Homo sapiens: one gene and its partners. The protein of the gene in region 1 purifies or fractionates together with the protein of each later gene. This does not show direct contact. Each region holds a gene or a part of one and is shown in the gene's direction. Other genes may lie near its edges. The genes, in order: XRN1, NUDCD1, LSM1 and PATL2.

Region 1 (4,682 bases):
TTTAGGTGTCCTTTCATTGTTTTAACTGTAAAGGCAAAAATTATATTCTTTGTTTCTCATTTTCCTTCTTATGATTTGGGATTGCCTCGTTTTATTTCTCTTCCTCTCTATAGGCATTTCAGAAATTGATTTGGTTTCTTTTTTTCTATTAGCTTCTGTCATTTAATGAGATCTTCAATAATCAGTTCCTTATTTTTACTGTTGAAGAGGTACATTGTGTTTTATGTTAATAAATGTGGAAAACATTTCTAAACATAAAAGCCCAGAAAATGAATTATTTTCTGGGCTTTTTAAAAAAATTACTTAAAACATGTTATTAAAAACAATTATTTAAGGCCAGGTGCAGTGGCTCACACCTGTAATCCCAGCACTTTGGGAGGCAAAATGGGTGGATTACCTGAGGTCAGGAGTTTGAGACCAGCCTGGCCAACGTGGCGAAACCCCATCTCTACTAAAAAAACAGAAATTAGTTGGATGTGGTGGCACACACCTGTAATCCCAGCTACTTGGGAGGCTGAGGCACGAGAATCACTTGAACCTGGGAGACAGAGGTTGCAGTGAGCCAAGACTGAGCCACTGCACTCCAGCCTGGCTGATAGAGTGAGACTCTGTCTCATAAAAAAGAAAAACAATTATTTAAAACCTGACAGGGAGGATACCATGATCATGAAGGTAGTTTTCCCAGGGCGAGGTTTATCCATTGCACTCTGGATGTGCTGATGCCCTGCGATTTCGCCAAATGTGGGAAACTGAACTGCGTGACTTATGGTAGTGGAGGACTGCATTCACACTTTCCCCTGGCAATTTTTTTTTAATTAAAAAAAAATTGTTATTTTAAAACAATGGACTAGTTTTTAAAATGTGGATATTTATAGTGTTTAATGATATGAGACATTAACTAGATCAGTGATTTTTCTCTAGAAATGATTTACATATAAAATACAATAGTCTAAGTTAATAGTAATGGCAAAAACCACAATTACTTTTGTGCCAGCCTAATAGCACAATATCTAGTAAATGTTATGTGCTTAATAAATGAATAATAGAATCAATTAGAATATGATAGTACCCTGCAGAGCATCTCTGATAATCTCCAAAGAATGTCTTGTGTTAACTTGAAAAGTAAACCTCTTGTGAAAAATTCTTCAGCCTCTCTGTAATTATTGGATTCTGCTGAGTTTCTTTTTTTTTTTTTTGGAGACAGCATGTCACTCTGTCACTCAGGCTGGAGTGCAGTGGCGCGATCTTGGCTCACTGCAACCTCTACCTCCTGGGTTCGCTTGAATTCCCCTGCCTCAGCCTCCTGAGTACCTGGGATTAGAGGTGCGCGCCACCACCCAGCTAATTTTTGTATTTTTAGTAGAGACGGGGTTTCACTATGTTGGTAATGCTGGTCTCGAACTCCTGACCTCGTGATCTGCCCACCTTGGCCTCCCTTAAGTCCTGGGATTACAGGCGTGAGCCACCGTGCCCGGCCAAGATTCTGTTGAGCTTCTTACTCTCCTTGCTGTACTGGTTCTATTTAGGTTCAAACTTAATGACTCTTGCTCCAGGAGGGGCAACTGTCCTTGTTTTCTCTAGTGTAGTCCTTCTCGCTGCTTAGCTCTTCCTCACTGGAACTTGGCAGCAGTCAGTCTGCATTCCACTGGTTTTTGTGTGTGTGTGTGTGTCTTTTTTTTTCCCCCCCTAAGAAAACGGGCTCTGCAACTTTTTGGGAACCTGTACACACAAAACTTACCTGTCAGTAATCCCTGGCTCCCCCACCACAATTCAGTACTTAAACTTCACCAGTCTTCCAGCCATATGCAGCTAACTTTAGAGACACTGTGCAGGAATAGCCCAGACACAGGAAGTTGGTAGAGGCCATAAGTTGGATGAAAGAAAGGAAATGGGGATAAGGGAGTAGGAAGAACTAAAGAGAGTCATTGGCAGTAGACAGGAAATCAGAGAATAGAGGAGAGAAAGGATTGAGATCACAAGGGAGGAAAAACAGATGGGCAGGATATGAAGGATGTTATAACATGGAAGAACTATAGAAAAGCAAATGGGTGCATGGAAGAGAAATGACATCTCATTTTGAAATGTATCTTGCCATTCATTTTATGTTGATTTACAATTTACAGGGCCAGGAAAATTCTCTGTGTTGGACTGCTTTAGACAAAAATGAAGGCGAAATGATAACTTCTAAGGGTAAGTATGAAGTATGTGTTTTGATATGTTACTACTTTGACAGGATAATTGTTATACCTTTTATTTATTATTACTAATTTTGGGTGGAACAGATTTCTGTGATAGCATATAAGCATCAACTTGGATATGCATTTATCAAATCATTAGGTGGAAAAACAGGCTATTCATAATTGTCAGTCACTATCTTTCTGACTTTTTTCCCCAGATAATTTAGAAGATGAGACTGAAGATGATGACCTATTTGAAACTGAGTTTAGACAATATAAAAGAACATATTACATGACGAAGATGGGGGTTGACGTAGTATCTGAGTACGTTTTTGCCAATGCTTTTATTTTAAAATAGAAAAAATTAGATTTTGCAGTTATTCAGAAAATATGATTTTGATGAAGTAGTGGGAGAAAAAGGATTTTTTGGTTTCATGAATTATTGTGTATGTTTCAACTAGTCTGGTTTTGGAGAAGATGGTATTAATTCTGACTTGTATTATATTCCTGTGATAAAAATTGCTGAAGAGAAAATGATCCTTATGTATAAGGATTTTTGTTACAAAGTTGTTTATAATAGTAAAAAAATTAGAAATAATCTAAATGTCCAATAAGAAGGTTCATCATAATTGGCCACTGCTTCTTCATTACAGTCACCATCTCTGTCACCTCTTCCATCTCCGGAATCTGCAGAACTGCTAAACTGGTACTTGCAGAAAGTTCATAACAATTTGGAAGGATGCTTATAGTACATTATTAAGTACAAATTGTAAAGGCAAGACATGAAATCATACATACAGTATGCTCTCATTAACCTTAAAAAAACCTAGATATAGATAAAAGACTGAAACACTAAAAATGTAAAAGTGATGGCTATAAGATGATAAAAATGCTGTTCTTCATTGTCCAGATTTTCACTCCTGAGGAAATAGTTCTTTTATAATAAAAAAGCAATATTTTTCATATTAAAAAACTACCTCCCAGAAATATGTAGTTATGTAATTTCTAAGTGAATATTTTTGCCTTTAGCCCAGGGCTCTGTTTTGTTTTGTTTTGATGATTTGAAGACTTATTTTACCCAAACTTAGAAGATGGCATTTGGTTTTTGACAAAGAAAGGATTAGAAGGAATATTGTTCACATACAGCACTTCTGAAAGCATTCTAGCTTCTGTGACCAAATTTTAAGATCTTCCTGATTTGCTGCTTTGCTTCTCTCAGATATCATCCCATGTAAAGAAGATTCCCATCCCTTTCTCCCGTCTCACCCCCACTATTTAAGAGAGTGGTAGTGTCACTATGGAAAGCTTCATTGGGTAAATCTTCAACCTTTGGACCAAGGGAGTGGTACATTAACTGAGTAAATATGAATAACAGACTTATCTATTTTGATAGTTGGTTTAGGAAAACTGTCATGTGACAGGATGTAATTTTTAAAAATATTTTGGAGTTTTTAGGATTATAATTTTTAGCCATAAATAGCTAATTCATTGATTAAATAAATCATCTGAGGTAAAATGTTGTATCAGCAGATACCGTGCTCTAAAGACACGGGCCTGTCTTCAGAAAATATGTTATAATGAAAATATTCTATTTTCAGTGACTTTCTGGCTGATCAAGCTGCATGTTATGTTCAGGCAATACAGTGGATTTTGCACTATTACTATCATGGAGTTCAGTCCTGGAGCTGGTGAGAGAATAAAAACAAAAATAAAGTTTTGTCTTTTTATAATGATTCATTCTACTAGAGTCTTATTTAGGAAGCACTTCCTTTTATTTCTACTTATGGTAATTTTTTTTTTTTTTTTTTTTTCACTCTGTTGCCCAGGCTGGAGTGCAGTGGCATGATCTCGGCTCATTGCAATCTCCGCCTCCTGGGTTCAAGCAATTCTGCCTCAACCCCCTGAGTAGCTGGGATTACAGGCATGCGCCACCACGGCCAGCTAATTTTTATATTTTTAGTAGAGATGGTGTTTCGCCATGTTGGCCAGGCTAGTCTCGAACTCCTGACCTCAGGTGATCCGCCCACCTTGACCTCCCAAAGTGCTAGGATTACAGGCATGAGTCACTGCACCCGGCCTCTACTTATGGTAATTTTTTAAAAGTTCCATACAACCAGGTTTAAATGAAACATAGGTAATATTTTCTCCAGCCCTAACAGAAGGCTCATAATAAGAGGTCTTAGTTAATGTAAAGATTTAATGTTCTCTATCAAAGTTAGTCAAGTTTGGCAAAGTCTTGATAATTACTGGGTTTGAGTGATGGTTATGTGAGGGTGTTCATTATATTCTCTTTACATTTTTTGTGTTTGCTAAAAAATTCTCTATCAAGAATAATTATTGAAGTGTTCGGGCACAGTGGCTCATGCCTCTAATCCCATCGCTTTGGGAGGCCAAGGTGGGCAGATCACTTGAGGTCAAGAGTTTTGAGACTAGCCTGGCCAACATGGTGAAACCCCATCTCTACTAAAAATACAAAAATTAGCTGGGCATGGTGGTGTGCCTCTG
Region 2 (4,516 bases), on another chromosome or scaffold:
TGGGAATCTATCAGGTAAAAAAAATACAAGGAGTCCAAACAGAATGCTATGTCAAAGGTATGGCAAAGACAAGCTGTATGAAATTGCTAGTTTCACAATTAACAACACTTGACACAGTCGCCATAATGGAAATATGCGTAAGGTAAGTGGCTGCTGAAGTGAAGAAACATCTAAGTCAGAGTGAGGGGCTCATAATAAGGCACCTACCTTCATTCTTATCCTCTTATTTTCATGATTGATCTCCCTTGGTGGTCACCTTTCACTTCGTGGTTCAAGGTCCTCTATTCTTTTCTCACTGCTGTCTCTTCAAGTATGGATGGACCAGAGATCATTCAATTATATTAATCCTCATAATATTCAATACATTCTTTAGGCACTTGGCTCATGAAAGTAGATGTATTGTTGTGAAAATATTGTTTCAACTTGTATTTTATTTTAGCTGTTGTTTATTTTTCTTCTGTGAAAGCCCTTGGTTAAAAAAAATAGAGTATCAGAGTTGGAGTACAGGGAAGAGAGCTGAAGCAGTGTTAGGTCTGTCAAACATAATAATAAAAGGCCAGTTAGGTAGTGGTGACTTTGAAAATAAACCTCATCTAGCCACTGATCATCGGGAGTAAGGAGAGAAAAGAAATAGTCTGTGGTCTCTGTGTGCTGGCCTTCTCCCCTTATTTTGTAGAGAGCAAGCACTGGCTCTACGAAAAAGCCCTATTTCCCTGGCATTGCTGGGGAGCAGAAGATGGGTTGCTCTGACACTGTATTCTCCTGTGACCAATAGCCTGTGTTGTCACAGCTTTACCAATAATAGGTCCCCTTGCTGGAGAGCCACTTCACAGCTTTCCCTGTTGAATTCAGGTCAGGTCTCCACTTCTTACTTTAACCCAATCTTTTACGGTTCTCCAGTCTGCTTGCAAACTCCTAGAATCAATTACATATTTATAAGTACTGTGCATATTTTATATTTTCTACATTTGATGTGATTTTTGTTGGTATTCTGTTTCGTATTTTCAACTCTGATAATAACATTTCTCATAAAGAAGACTATCCTTACAACATGTCTTCATTTAGAAAAAGTATTGCTGTAGATGAAATTCAGTGAGTTTCAATTTGATGATTTTGTATTAAAATGCATTTCTTTAGGCATCAATATTGCAGTAACAATTATTGATGTGTTACAATAACAAATGTTGACATTATTGACATATTGACATTGATACTTTAATTAAGCAGTACGTTTAAGTAAATAGTTTTAAACATCTGAGTGTGAATTCCAGCATTGTGATATTTCTCTTTAGCCTAGAACAAGTTACTCAAACTCTCCAAGCCTGTTCTTTCATCCCTTAAATGAAGATAATAATAGCCTTGCGAGTTGTTAAGATTAGTATTTATAACATGCCTGGTTATAAATGTTATGAGAGTGTGCTCATAAATTCTGGTAGTGTCATTGTTCTTGGTAATTATTACAAGTTAGCATTAGTAAACTTCATGTGTGTATTCTATGGCCTAAAAATAGTCTGCTTATAAAATTGGTGCTTTATATCAGCAGTCCCCAACCTTTTTGGCACCAGGGACCAGTTTTGTGGAAGACAGTTTTTCCATGGGCCTGTGGGGGCTTGGTGGATGGTTTCAGGATGAAACTGTTCCACCTCAGATCATCAGGTATTAGTTAGATTCTCATAAGGCAGACAGCCTAGATCCCTTGCATGTGCATTTCACAATAGTGTTCACCCTCCTGTGAGAATCTAATTCCACTGCTGATCTGACAGGAGGTGGAGCTCAGGCAGTAATGCTCCCTTGCCTGCTGCTCATCTCTTGCTGTGCGGCCCAGTTCCTAAAAGGCCACTGACTGGTACCAGTCTGCGGCTCAGTGACTGGGGACCCCTGCTTTATATCGTGTTTTAAACTATTTACTAACAATTAAGAGGTGGTATATCACGTGGTGATTAAGAACATAGACTCTGGGTCCAAATTTCAGCTCCATGACTTATGGCCAGGCTGACCATCGACAAGTTACCTAAATGCCTTGTGCATCACTTTCCTCAGCTTTGAAATGAACATAACAGTAGCACATTTATCTCAGGGATATTATGAGGAGTCAATCAGATTAAGTATATAAAAAGTATAAAACAGTTGCTGACACTTAATGCTGGCTGTCAGCTTCTGCCATTGTTATTGTTGCTATTATTAATTTGTTGTTGAGTAAATTTTTTTTTAAATCACTTTTTAGGTGAATCTTGGAAGCAACCAGTACCTTTTCTCTGTCATAGTGGATCCTAAAGAAATGCCCTGCTTCTGTTTGCGCCATGATGTTGATGCCCTACTCTGGCAACCACACTCCAGCAAACAAGATGATATGTGGGAGCACATCGCAACTTTCAATGCTTTAGGTATAAAGCAAACTCTTTGACATTTTCCATGAAATCAGAAATACAGTCATCATTCATTTAAAGTTCATTTCTTTTTTTTCTTTTTAATTTGAGCTGTCCTGATTACATTTAGATTGATTTGCGCTATGATTTGTTTGCTTGTACTAGTTGTGAGTGTTAGCACTGTTGGAACATTTAGACTAATCTGTTTTTATGCTTGTACAGAAGATCAACACAGAATAGAAATGAAAGTGGTTATCTAACCACTTGAATTATTCTAATAAGTCATTTGCTTTTTCTAATTCTGTAAGCCATATAATACTGGAGTCTGAGCAAGGAGCTTGATAATACCCTACATGGAACTGGTGTTCAAGTTTCTTCAGAGTAATCTTCAGAAACATCATAGAATTCCCCTAAGGTGTAATGCACATTAGGAGACATCTTTTGTCAAAATTAAGTACAAAAGAGAGCCATTATAATGAAAATACTTATGGAAAGCGGTGATAAGCAGAAATTAAATTTATTTGGTAGGATAAAAGGAAAAAAATCAGTTTTAAAATTAGGGCTTGACAATGTTTAAACTACTTAATTATAGACGTATGCAATCATTGATTTTCTGTCAAAATGCATTAGTATTGTGTGACAGAAATTTTTTATGTGAATTAGCCACAGTTGTTGCTTTATTGAAAGGTTATTTTAAACAGGCAGCAAGAAGTGAAGTTACGTATTTTGATGGCTATATGTGCACAACCCTAATTGTAGAAGAAATTTATTAATTATCCCTTATAGTTAATAATGTAGGCTGCTAAACTGGTTCAGACTCCAAATGGATTTTTATGACCTGAAGTACAAAGTTTGGTTAACTAATTTAACCATATAATTTTTAGCCTCCCTACTATAATGCTATTTTTTAATTATCTATACTTTGGTCAGAAGAAAGCTCTATCATATCATCTTTAGATGCTCAGATGTTCTATTTGTATCCCCAAATCCCCTATTATAGGGGAATTCTATGCTTAATTCTAAGTTAAATCAACATATATTAGATATGTACTCTTGAAATATTATATACATTATTCTGTCAAGGTTAGCCTGGATAGCTACTTTAAACTATTTAAATAGGTATCTAAATCTTCACTTTTCCTGCTTCAAACCTGCTTAATATTTTTAAAAACAGTATTGATCTGCATGTGCTCAGTAGTTCCTTTGCTTATTCATTGTTTGATGAGATCTCAATTTTAATTAATGTTATATTCTTATTTTACATGATCATAAATACCTAACATTTGCTAACCATGTCACTATCTAAAAATCATAATTTATATTTTGGAATATAAATGTTGTTTTAATCCAAAAAGATACTTTTTAAACATGTACATGAATTAAGATAAGGATTTTTTTCAGTTTAGAGACTTGAAATTATTTTTGAAGTTATAGTGATCAACATTCTACTTGTGGGGGCTAAAAGTACAAAAAAATCCAGTTACAGTGTTGGTATTGATGTATAAAAATATCACTAACATTTTAGGGATAATAAGAGAATGCATCACGAATACTAGTACATTCAGGGATACATTATGAACAGAAAACTAAAATAACTTTATGATGGTATCCTATACACATTTTCCAATTTATTTAAGAGGAAAAAAATGGTTCTGTGATGCCCTATCCGTAACTCACGAAGCTAAATATTAAATTGGCACTTAAAGATATTTTGTCATGTATTGAGTGTTTTAGATTTTAGAATTTTAGTGTTCGAATTATTCGTGGAAATTAAATGAAGCTATATTACGCTTTTTTTGAAGCGAGAAAGCCATATCTGTTTTGTTCCTTAGGAATTAAAGTCGTATTTTTGTACCAGATGGGAGAGACTGATTGTGGCTAATCGTTAATGATTCAGAATTATATACCTTATGGTATATATTTTACTTGGGCATTTTAATTTGTAATAAACATTGCAAAATATTAAATGTTAAATCATCATTTTTCCCCTTCTGTTTAATATATAGTTTTTCTTTTGTTTGTCTCATATTCTTGGCAGGCTATGTCCAAGCATCAAAGAGAGACAAAAAATTTTTTGCCTGTGCTCCAAATTACTCGTATGCAGCCCTTTGTGAGTGCCTTCGTCGAGTATTCATCTATCGTCAGCCTGC
Region 3 (4,837 bases), on another chromosome or scaffold:
AATTGCTTAGCAAGTCACATACTGAAAAGCCCAAGAGGCAGTGCATTAGGCCGAGAACACTGTGCTCTCTTTAGCTGCTACTCATGGGTTGGGAGGGCAGGTGGTAATATATACTTTGCTGGGTGCTGTTAACTTTGGACCTAGAGCAGGGCTTGCTTATGTAATTTGTGTGGCTTTCATTGTAACTTCTGTGGTGAGAGTCCTCTCTGACTGATAATGCCACTGCCTGTGAGTTCTGAGACCTTGGCAGCATGTGGTAATAGTATGCAGGGCAGAGCATCTGGAGAAGTGTGTCAGTACCGTCCCAAACTTTTATCATTGAAAGTCATAGAGGAGGGTAAGAAACAGGAATACTTTGTATAGGCTTTCCATCTTACAAAAACACCAAATAATACCTGTACATTCATTTTAAGGACAATAAACTGAATCTATGGACAGTGAGATACTTTTTTAGCAAGGTTCTTCTGCATTATGACATTGGTTAGCAAATGTTTATAAGGGCCAGGCACAGTGGCTCACACTTTGGGAGGCCAAGGCAAGAGGATGCTTGAGGCCAGAAGTTTGAGACCAGCCTGGGCAACATAGCAAGACCCCATCTCTACAAAAAGAAAAAAGATTTAATGCCAGATGTGGTGGCACATGCCTGTAGTTCCAGCTACTTAGGAGGCTGAGGCAGGAGGATCACTTCAGCCCAAGAGTTTCAGATCATGGTGAGCTGTGATTGTGCCACTGCACTCCACCCTGGGCAACAGAGCAAGATCCTGTCTCTAAAAAAATGAAAAATGTGCTCACATTGGCAGCACATCTACTAAAATTGGAACAACACAGAGAAGATTAGCACGGCCCCTGCTTAAGGATGACACGCAAATTCATGAAGTCTTCTATATCTTTAAAAATAATTAATGAAAAATGTTTATAAAACATTCAAAAATAAAAATATTAAGCATACTATGCCACATTTAAGTGAAAAAACGAATTAAAGTCAGTATTTGCATTGTGGGTTTTTGGGAGGGGTTTGTTTTTGAGGCAGCGTCTCACTTTGTTATCTAGGCTGACTGCAGTGGTGTGATCACAGCTCACTGCAGCCTCAAACTCCTGGGCTCAAGTGATCCTCCCCCCTCAGCCTCATGAGTAGCTGGGACTATAGGTACACGTTACCACGCCCAGCTAATTTTTTATTTTTTACTTTTTTTTTTTTTTCCTTTTGAGACAGAGTCTTACTCTGTCGCCCAGGCTAGAGTGCAGTGGTGTGATCTTGGCTCACTGCAACCTCTGCCTCCTGGATTCAAGTGATTCTCGTGCCTCAGCTTCCCGAGTAGCTGGGATTACAAGTGTGAGCCACCACACCTGGCTGGGTTGTTTATTTTTTTTAAGTCAGTATATATGTAGAAAAATTGTAGGGATATTATCAAAATGTTAATCCTCCATACTGGAATTATGGATAATTTTTAAATTTTCCTTGTTTGTCTATTTTCCATATTATCTACGATGAGTGTGTATTTTTTAAATAAGGAATTTTTTATTAGGCAACAATTTTTTGTTTTTTTTTGAGATGGAGTTTTACTCTTGTCACCCAGGCTAGAGTGCAATGGCGTGATCTCCGCTCACTGCAACCTCCGCCTCCCAGGTTCAAGTGCTTCTCCTGCCTCAGCCTCCCAAGTAGCTGGGATTACAGGCACCTGCCACCACGCCCAGCTAATTTTTTTTGTATTTTTAGTAGAGACGGGGGTTTTGCCATGTTGGCCAGGCTGGTCTCGAACTCCTGGCCTCAAGTGATCTGCCCGCCTCGGCTTCCCAGTGTGCTGGGATTACAAGCGTGAGCCACCATGCCCAACCTAAGCAGCAATTTTTTAAATAGTGGAGAAAAATATTGGGACCAAATTGGTTTAGTAACCTAAATGGTCTGCCGAGGTTCTCCCTAGAAGACTTGTTGCCGTAAAGGGAAAAAGAGTCTTGTTACAGTTTAGATCTAGACTACAGAGCTGGTACGGTGGCGCACACCTGTAGCCCCAGCTACGTAGGAGGTAAAGGCAAGAGGATCCCTTTTTATTTTTGTCTTTTTACTTTTTTTGAGACGGTCTTGCTGTTGCAGAGGCTGGAGTGCAGTGACACATTCATGGCTCACTGCAGCCTTGAACTTCAACCTCCCAGGCTCAAGCAGTCCTTCCACCTCAGCCTCCTGAGTAGCTGGAACTGTAGGTGAACACCACCACACCAGCTTTTTTTTGTTTTGTTTTTTGGTGGAGTTAGTTAGGGTCTCACTGTGTTGCCCAGGCTGGTCTCGAACTCCTAGGCCCAAGTGATCCTCCCACCTCAGCCTCCCAAAGTGCTGGGATTACGACTGTGAGCCACTCCACCCGTCCTTAAAATAATTAAAAAAAAAAAAAAGTCTAAGGCCACATTGCCTCAATAACCTCCCTCTTGGATTCTCTGCAGTGGGGGAGATAGCTGTCTATAAGCAGCCCTAATTTTTTTTTTTAAGGAAATTAATCGTGGACTAATAGAAAATTAATCCTGACTAATATGGGATTTTGGATCACATAAAGCTCTGTTATACAAATACTTATTACTGCCTATAATCCCAGCACTTTGAGAGGCCAAGGCAGGCAGATCATGAGGTCAGGTTTCGAGACCAGCCTGACCAACGTGGTGAAACCCTGTCTCTACTTAAAATACAAAAATTAGCCAGGCGTGGTGGCACGTGCCTGTAATCACAGCTACTCAGGAGGCTGAGGCAGGATAATCGCTTGAACCCAGGAGGTAGAGGTTGCAGTGAGCTCAGATTGCGCCACTGCACTTCAGCCTGGGTGACAGAGAGACTCCATCTTGAAAAATATATACATATACTGATCACTATTAACCTCATTGTAAGTATGTATCCTATAGTAGTGTTGTCAGGCATTTCTTTGAAAAACTTACCGGTCCCTAGGAGAAGGATATTTCAGTTCCTGTCACAGTTATGAAAAATAATCTGAGCCTGATAGAGGAATCCATTTGCCTTGAGATCTGTGCTTTCTATTCTTGGTCTTCAGGTGAAGTTTTCAAACCTGTCTCTTTTGTAGGACTTGGAAAAGGAGAGTGACACACCCCTCCAGCAAGTATCCATTGAAGAAATTCTAGAAGAACAAAGGGTGGAACAGCAGACCAAGCTGGAAGCAGAGAAGTTGAAAGTGCAGGCCCTGAAGGACCGAGGTCTTTCCATTCCTCGAGCAGATACTCTTGATGAGTACTAATCTTTTGCCCAGAGGCTGTTGGCTCTTGAAGAGTAGGGGCTGTCACTGAGTGAAAGTGACATCCTGGCCACCTCACGCATTTGATCACAGACTGTAGAGTTTTGAAAAGTCACTTTTATTTTTAATTATTTTACATATGCAACATGAAGAAATCGTGTAGGTGGGTTTTTTTTTTAATAACAAAATCACTGTTTAAAGAAACAGTGGCATAGACTCCTTCACACATCACTGTGGCACCAGCAACTACTTCTTTATATTGTTCTTCATATCCCAAATTAGAGTTTACAGGGACAGTCTTCATTTACTTGTAAATAAAATATGAATCTCAAAAGTGTCATGTTATTTCCAAGTTTGAGTTACCTGTAATGAATAGATTAATAGATTAATTAAGTTTCTGCTCTCAAAGGTATAAGCAGTCCACATACTGGGATTTCCCCCTTCAGTCACAGTTTCAAGTAGCTGGCTACTTAGGAAGGAATATTTTTATTCCAGTCATCTCAGGGGTCCTCTCCTGTTTCCATGTTTGTATCTGTTAAGAAATACAAATGTTCGGCAGGGGCGGTGGCTCATGCCTGTAATCCCAGCACTTTGGGATGCCGAGGCGGGTAGATCACCTGAGGTCGGGAGTTGAAGACCATCCTGACCAACATGGAGAAACCCTGTCTCTACTAAAAATACAAAATTACCAGGGCGTGGTGGCGCATGCTGTAATCCCAGCTACTTGAGAGGCTGAGGCAGGAGAATCACTTGAACCTGGAAGGCAGAGGTTGCGGAGAGCCAAGATTGCACCATTGCACTCCAGCCTGGGCAATGAGCGAAACTCCGTCTCAAAAAAAAAAAAAAAAAAATATAAACGCTCAGGCGTGAGGAGGGAGCTTTCAGCTGTTTCCCAGTTACTGGTTACTGCAGAAGACTCATGTTTGAGAAACGACATCATGGTTGCTCTTGCTCCTGCTTCGCCCATGGCTATTCCAAACTAAGTCCCCACGAGACCCAACATGTTCTTACAGTGGCTTGTTCTCCAGGTTTTCTGCTAATTTAATTAGGTGTTCTAGTCCTTTGTATTGAGTCTTGAGTATCTTAACGTTCTCATCAAAAAGGAACATAAATGGTATTGTAGTGACTGAAAGCCCATAGTGATGGCACTTTGTGTGACTGTCGAAGAGTAGGGATTGCATGAAAAGCTTAACAGATTTGTACTTCAAGAAGGAAGCATGGGCCGGGTGCAGTGGCTTACACCTGTAATCCCAGCACTTTGGGAGGCAGAGGCAGGTGGTTCACCTGAGGTCAGGAGTTCAAGGCCAGTCTGGCCAACATGGTGAAACCCCGTCTACTAAAAATATAAAAATTAGCATGGTGGTGCATCCCTGTGATCCCAGCTACTCGGGAGGCTGAGGCAGGAGAATTGCTTGAACCCGGGAGGCAGAGGTTGCAGTGAGCTGAGATTGCACCACTGTAGTCCATCCTGGGCGACAGAGTGAGACTCTGTCTCTAAATAAATAAATAAAGGAATCATGGTTTAGTAGACAGTGGGCTCAACTAGGAGTTAGGAGATACCGTGTGAAATTGGCAATTATTGGCAGATTAGGCTTGAGTAAGTCATC
Region 4 (4,682 bases), on another chromosome or scaffold:
CGAGATTGCACCACTGCACTCCAGCCTGGGCAACAGAGCAAGACTTCATCTCAAAAAGAAAAAAGAAAAAGGAAAACACTTCGACAGCTCTTTATAAAGTTAAACATACACTGGCCATAATATCCAGCCACTCCACCCAAGGTATTTGCCCAAGAGAAAATGAAAGCATATGTCTATACAAAGACTTGGACATTAATGTTTAATGTTTATAGCAGTTTTATTTGTGATAGCTGAAAACTAGAAACGATCCAACATACATCAACAGGTAAATGAATAAACCCATTGGAGTATATATCCATACAATGAAATACTATCATCAACAAACAAGGAATAAACTGTTGATACATGTAACATGGATGAAATAATCATGGTAAATAAAAGAAGTCAGACAGAAAAGAACATATACTATATGATTCTGTTTATATAAAACTCCAGAAAAGGCAAACTATAATCTATATGACAGAAAGTAGATGAGTGGTTTCTAGAGGGAAAGGAGATCATCTAAACATGAGGAAACTTTAGGGTTGATGGATATGTTAATTATCTAGAGTTCGATGATGATTTCAGTTATATTTTAGAACTTATTGTATACTTTAAGTGTAATATATTGTATGTCGATTATAAATATTTAAAAGGACATAGCTAGGGGAGGTGGAGCAAGATGGCTGAATAGACGCCTCCACTAATCCTGCTCCCTGCAGGAACACCAAATTGAATAATGATCCACACAAAAAAAAGCACCTTCATAAGAACCAAAAATCAGGTGAGTGATCACAGTACCTGGTTTTAACTTCGTATCACTGAAAGAGTAACTGAAGAGGGTAAGACAGTCTTGAATTGCTAAATGCTATCTCTCCCCCATTCGCCGGCAGCGGCCACCTGGCATGGAGAGAGAATGTGTGCTTCTGGGAGAGGAAGAGTGCAGTGATTTTCAGACTTTGCATTGGAACTCAGTGCTGCCCAGTCATAGCACAAAGCAACACTGGGAAGAACTCACCCAGGTCCCATGGAGGGATCATTTAGACCAGCCCTAGCTAGAGGCAAATCACCCATCCCAGCAGTGGGAACCTGAGTTCCAGTAAGCCTCCCCACCATGGGCTGAAGTGCTCTGAGGTTCTACATAAACTTGAAAGGCAGTCTAGGCCACAAGGATGGCAATTCCTGGGTAAGTCCTGGTGCTGTGCTGGGCTCAGAGCCAGTGAATGTGGGGGGCACACAACCTAGTGAGACACTAGCTGGGATGGCCAAGGGATTGCTTGCACCACCCCTCTCCCAACCCCAGGCAGGGCAGCTCAAAGCTCAGAGAGAGACTTCTTTCCTCTGCTTGAGAAGAGGAGAGGGAAGAACAAAGATGAGTTTGTCTTGCATTGGATACCAGCTCAGCTGCAGTAGGATAGGGCACCAGGCAAAGTCCTGAGGCCCACATTCCAGGCCATAGCTCCAAGCTGACATTTCTAGCCACACCCTGGGCCAGAAGGGAACCTGCTGCCTTGAAGGGAAGGACCAGTCCTGGCAGGATTCCTCACCAGCTGACTAAAGAGCCCTTTGGCCCTGAATAATCAGAAGTAGCCAGGTAGTACTCATCATGGGCTTTGGGTGAGACTCAGAGACGTGCAGGCTTAAGGTGTGACCCAGCACATTACAGCTGTGGTGGCTATGGGGAGAAATTCCTTCTGCTTGAGAAAAGAAGTGGAAAGAGTAAAGGGGACTTGGCCACTGTGGGGTTAGAATACCAAGTGGCCTCTTAAGGTCCCTGATTCCAGGCTTTGGCTCTTAGATAGCATTCCTGGACCTGCTCTGGGCCAGAGGGGAGCCTGCTTCCCTGAAGGGTGAGTCCCAGGCTGGGCAGCGTTCACCACAAGCTTACTGCAGAGCCCTTGGGCCTTGAGTATACATCAGCAGTAGCCAGACAGTACCCACCACAGGCCTGGGGTGGAAGTGGCCATGGCAAGAGACTCCTCAGCTTGTGGAAAGGGGAGGGAAAAGTGGGAAGGACTTTGTCTTGTGGCTTGGGTGCCAGTTCAGCCTCAGTGCAATAGAGTACCAGGTAGATTCCTAAGGTTTCTGACTAGGCCCCAGTTCCTGGAAGGCATCTCTGGATTCACCCCAGGCTGGGGGAAACTTGCCACCCTAAAGAGAGGGACATAAGCTTGGCTGGCTTTGCCACCTGCTGATTTTAGAGCCATAGGGCCTTGAGTGAACATAGGTAGTAGCCAGGCGGTGGTTACCATAGGCCTTGGGCAAGACCCAGTACTATGCTGGCTTCACGTCTGACCCTGCACAGTCCCAGTGGTGGTCACAGGGGTGTTTGTGTCACTTCTCCCCCAACTCCAGGCAGCTGATCACAGAAAGACAGACTTTGCCTGGGGGAAAATAAGGGAAGACAATAAGAGTCTCTGCCTGGTAATCCAGAGAATTCTTCCAGATCTTATCCAAGACCACCATGGCAGTGCCTCTATGAGTAATCAGTGTTAAGTTGTCAGCAGTTTAAAATAATGAGTGATAAAATATTATCTGCAAACCTCATGGTAACCTCAAATCAAAAAAGATACAACAGACTGTGAAAGAGCCACAGCATTTCTGTGCTTGGTGTGCCCTCTAATGCAGATACAGCTGCAGTGACCAAAAACTTAGATCACAACACCCAAGTTCCTTTGAATTCCTGGAAAGCCTTCCCAAGAAGGACAGATACAAACAGCCCAGACTGCAAAGACTATAATAAATATTTAACTCAGACACTGATGAACATCCACAAGCATCAGGACCAGCCAGGAAAACATGACCTCATCAAATGAATAAGGCACCAGAGGCCAATCCCAGAGAAACAGAGATATGTGACCTTTGAAACAGAATTCAAAATAGCTGTTTTGGTCAGGCACGGTGGCTCACACCTGTAATCCCAACATTCTGGGAGGCCAAGGTGGGTAGATCACTTGAGCTCAGGAGTTCAAGACCAGCTTGGCCAACATGGTGAAACCCTATCTCTACTAAAAATACAAAAATAGCTGGGCGTGGTGGCATATGCTTGTAATCCCAGCTACTCAGGAGGCTGAGGCAGGAGAATTGCTTAAACTTGGGAGGCGGAGATTCAGTGAGCCAAGATCATACCACTGTACTCCAGCCTGGGCAACTGAGCAAGACTCTGTCTAAAAAAAAACAATGTTTTGAGGAAACTCAAAGAAATTAAAGCTAACACAGAGAAGGAATTCAGAATCCTATCATATAACTTTAACAAAGAGATTAAAATAACTAAAAAGAATCAAGCAAAAATTATGGAGTTGAAAAATGATACTGACATACATAAGGGTGCATCAGACTCTCTTATCAGTAGAACTGATCAAGTGGAAGAAAGAATTAGTGAGCTTGAAGACAGGCAATTTGAAAATATAATCAGAAGAGACAAAAGAAAAAAGAATAAAAAAGAATGAAGCATGCCTACAAGATCTAGAAAATAGCCTCAAAACGGCAAATTTAAGAGTTACTGGCTGCAGCCAGGTGCAGTGGCTCACTCCTGTAATCCCAGCACTTTGGGAGGCCAAGGTGGGCAGATCATGAGGTCAGGAGTTCGAGAGCAGCCTCGCCAACATCGTGAAACCCCGTCTCAACTAAAATACAAAAATTAGCTGGACGTGGCAGCAGGCGCCTTTAATCCCGGCTACTCTGGAGGCTGAGGCAGGAGAATTGCTTGAACCTGGGAAGTGGAGGCTGTAGTGAACCAAGATCACAGCACTGCACTCCAGCCTGGACAACAAAGTGAGACTCTGTCTCAAAAAGAAAAAAAAAAGAGTTATTGGCCTTAAAGAGGAGGTAGAGAGAGAGATGGGGTAGAAAGTTTATTCAAAGTGATAGTAACAAAGACCTTCCCAAACCTAGGGAAAGATATCAATATTCAAGTATATGAAGGTTATAGAACACCAAACAAATTCAACCCAAAGAAGATGACCTCAAAACATTTAATAAACAAACTCCCAAGGTCAAGAATACAGAAAGGATCCTAAAAGCAGCAACAGAAAATAAACAAATAACATACCATGGAGCTCTGATATGTCTGGCAGCAGACTTTCCAGTGGAAATATCCTTGAAATATGAAGGAGAAATAAATATCCTTGAAAATATGAAGGAGAAATAAAGACTTTCCTAGACAAACAAAAGTTGAGGGATTTCATCAACACCAGACCTGTCCTACAAGAAATGCTGAAGGGAGTTCTTTAATCAGAAAGAAAAGGACATTAATGAGCAATGAAAAATAATTTGAAGGTGTAAAACTCACTGGTAATTGGAAGTACACAGAAAAAAAACAGAATATTGTAACACTGTAATCATGGTATGTAAACTACTCATATCTTGAGTGGAAAGACCAAAAGCTGAACCAGTCAAAACTAATAACTATAACAACTTTTCAAGACATAGACAGTACAATATGACACAAACACAAACAACAAAGAATTAAAAAGCAGGAGGACAAAGTTAAAATGTAGAGTTTTTATTAATTTTTTCTTTGCTTCTTTATTTATGTAATCAGTGGTAAGTTTTCATTGGTTTAAAATAATGGGTTATGTTGTGAATATGCCAAAAATAATAAAATAAATAATGGGTTATAAAATATTAAATACAAGCCTTATGGTAACCTGAAATAAAAAAGCATACAACAGGGGCCAGGAGTGGTGGCTCCCACTTGTAAT

Evidence for each region.
Region 2: the proteins of XRN1 (region 1) and NUDCD1 purify together in Homo sapiens (co-immunoprecipitation; one large-scale study listed by IntAct). This does not show direct contact.
Region 3: the proteins of XRN1 (region 1) and LSM1 purify together in Homo sapiens (co-immunoprecipitation; one large-scale study listed by IntAct). This does not show direct contact.
Region 4: the proteins of XRN1 (region 1) and PATL2 purify together in Homo sapiens (co-immunoprecipitation; one large-scale study listed by IntAct). This does not show direct contact.

Annotation. Positions count from the first base shown.
Region 1 is NC_000003.12:142,416,323-142,421,004, reverse strand, and holds part of XRN1 (5'-3' exoribonuclease 1), read left to right. Parts: intron 1-2,123; coding exon 2,124-2,190; intron 2,191-2,395; coding exon 2,396-2,501; coding exon of another isoform or gene 2,502-2,535; exon of another isoform or gene 2,536-3,164; intron 3,165-3,775; coding exon 3,776-3,865; intron 3,866-4,682. UniProt on the Homo sapiens protein: Major 5'-3' exoribonuclease involved in mRNA decay. Required for the 5'-3'-processing of the G4 tetraplex-containing DNA and RNA substrates. The kinetic of hydrolysis is faster for G4 RNA tetraplex than for G4 DNA tetraplex and monomeric RNA tetraplex.
Region 2 is NC_000008.11:109,243,190-109,247,705, reverse strand, and holds part of NUDCD1 (nudC domain-containing protein 1), read left to right. Parts: intron 1-2,224; coding exon 2,225-2,384; intron 2,385-4,404; coding exon 4,405-4,516.
Region 3 is NC_000008.11:38,162,066-38,166,902, reverse strand, and holds the end of LSM1 (U6 snRNA-associated Sm-like protein LSm1), read left to right. Parts: intron 1-3,062; coding exon 3,063-3,233; 3' UTR 3,234-3,564; downstream 3,565-4,837. UniProt on the Homo sapiens protein: Plays a role in the degradation of histone mRNAs, the only eukaryotic mRNAs that are not polyadenylated. Probably also part of an LSm subunits-containing complex involved in the general process of mRNA degradation.
Region 4 is NC_000015.10:44,704,287-44,708,968, reverse strand, and holds part of PATL2 (protein PAT1 homolog 2), read left to right. Parts: intron 1-4,682.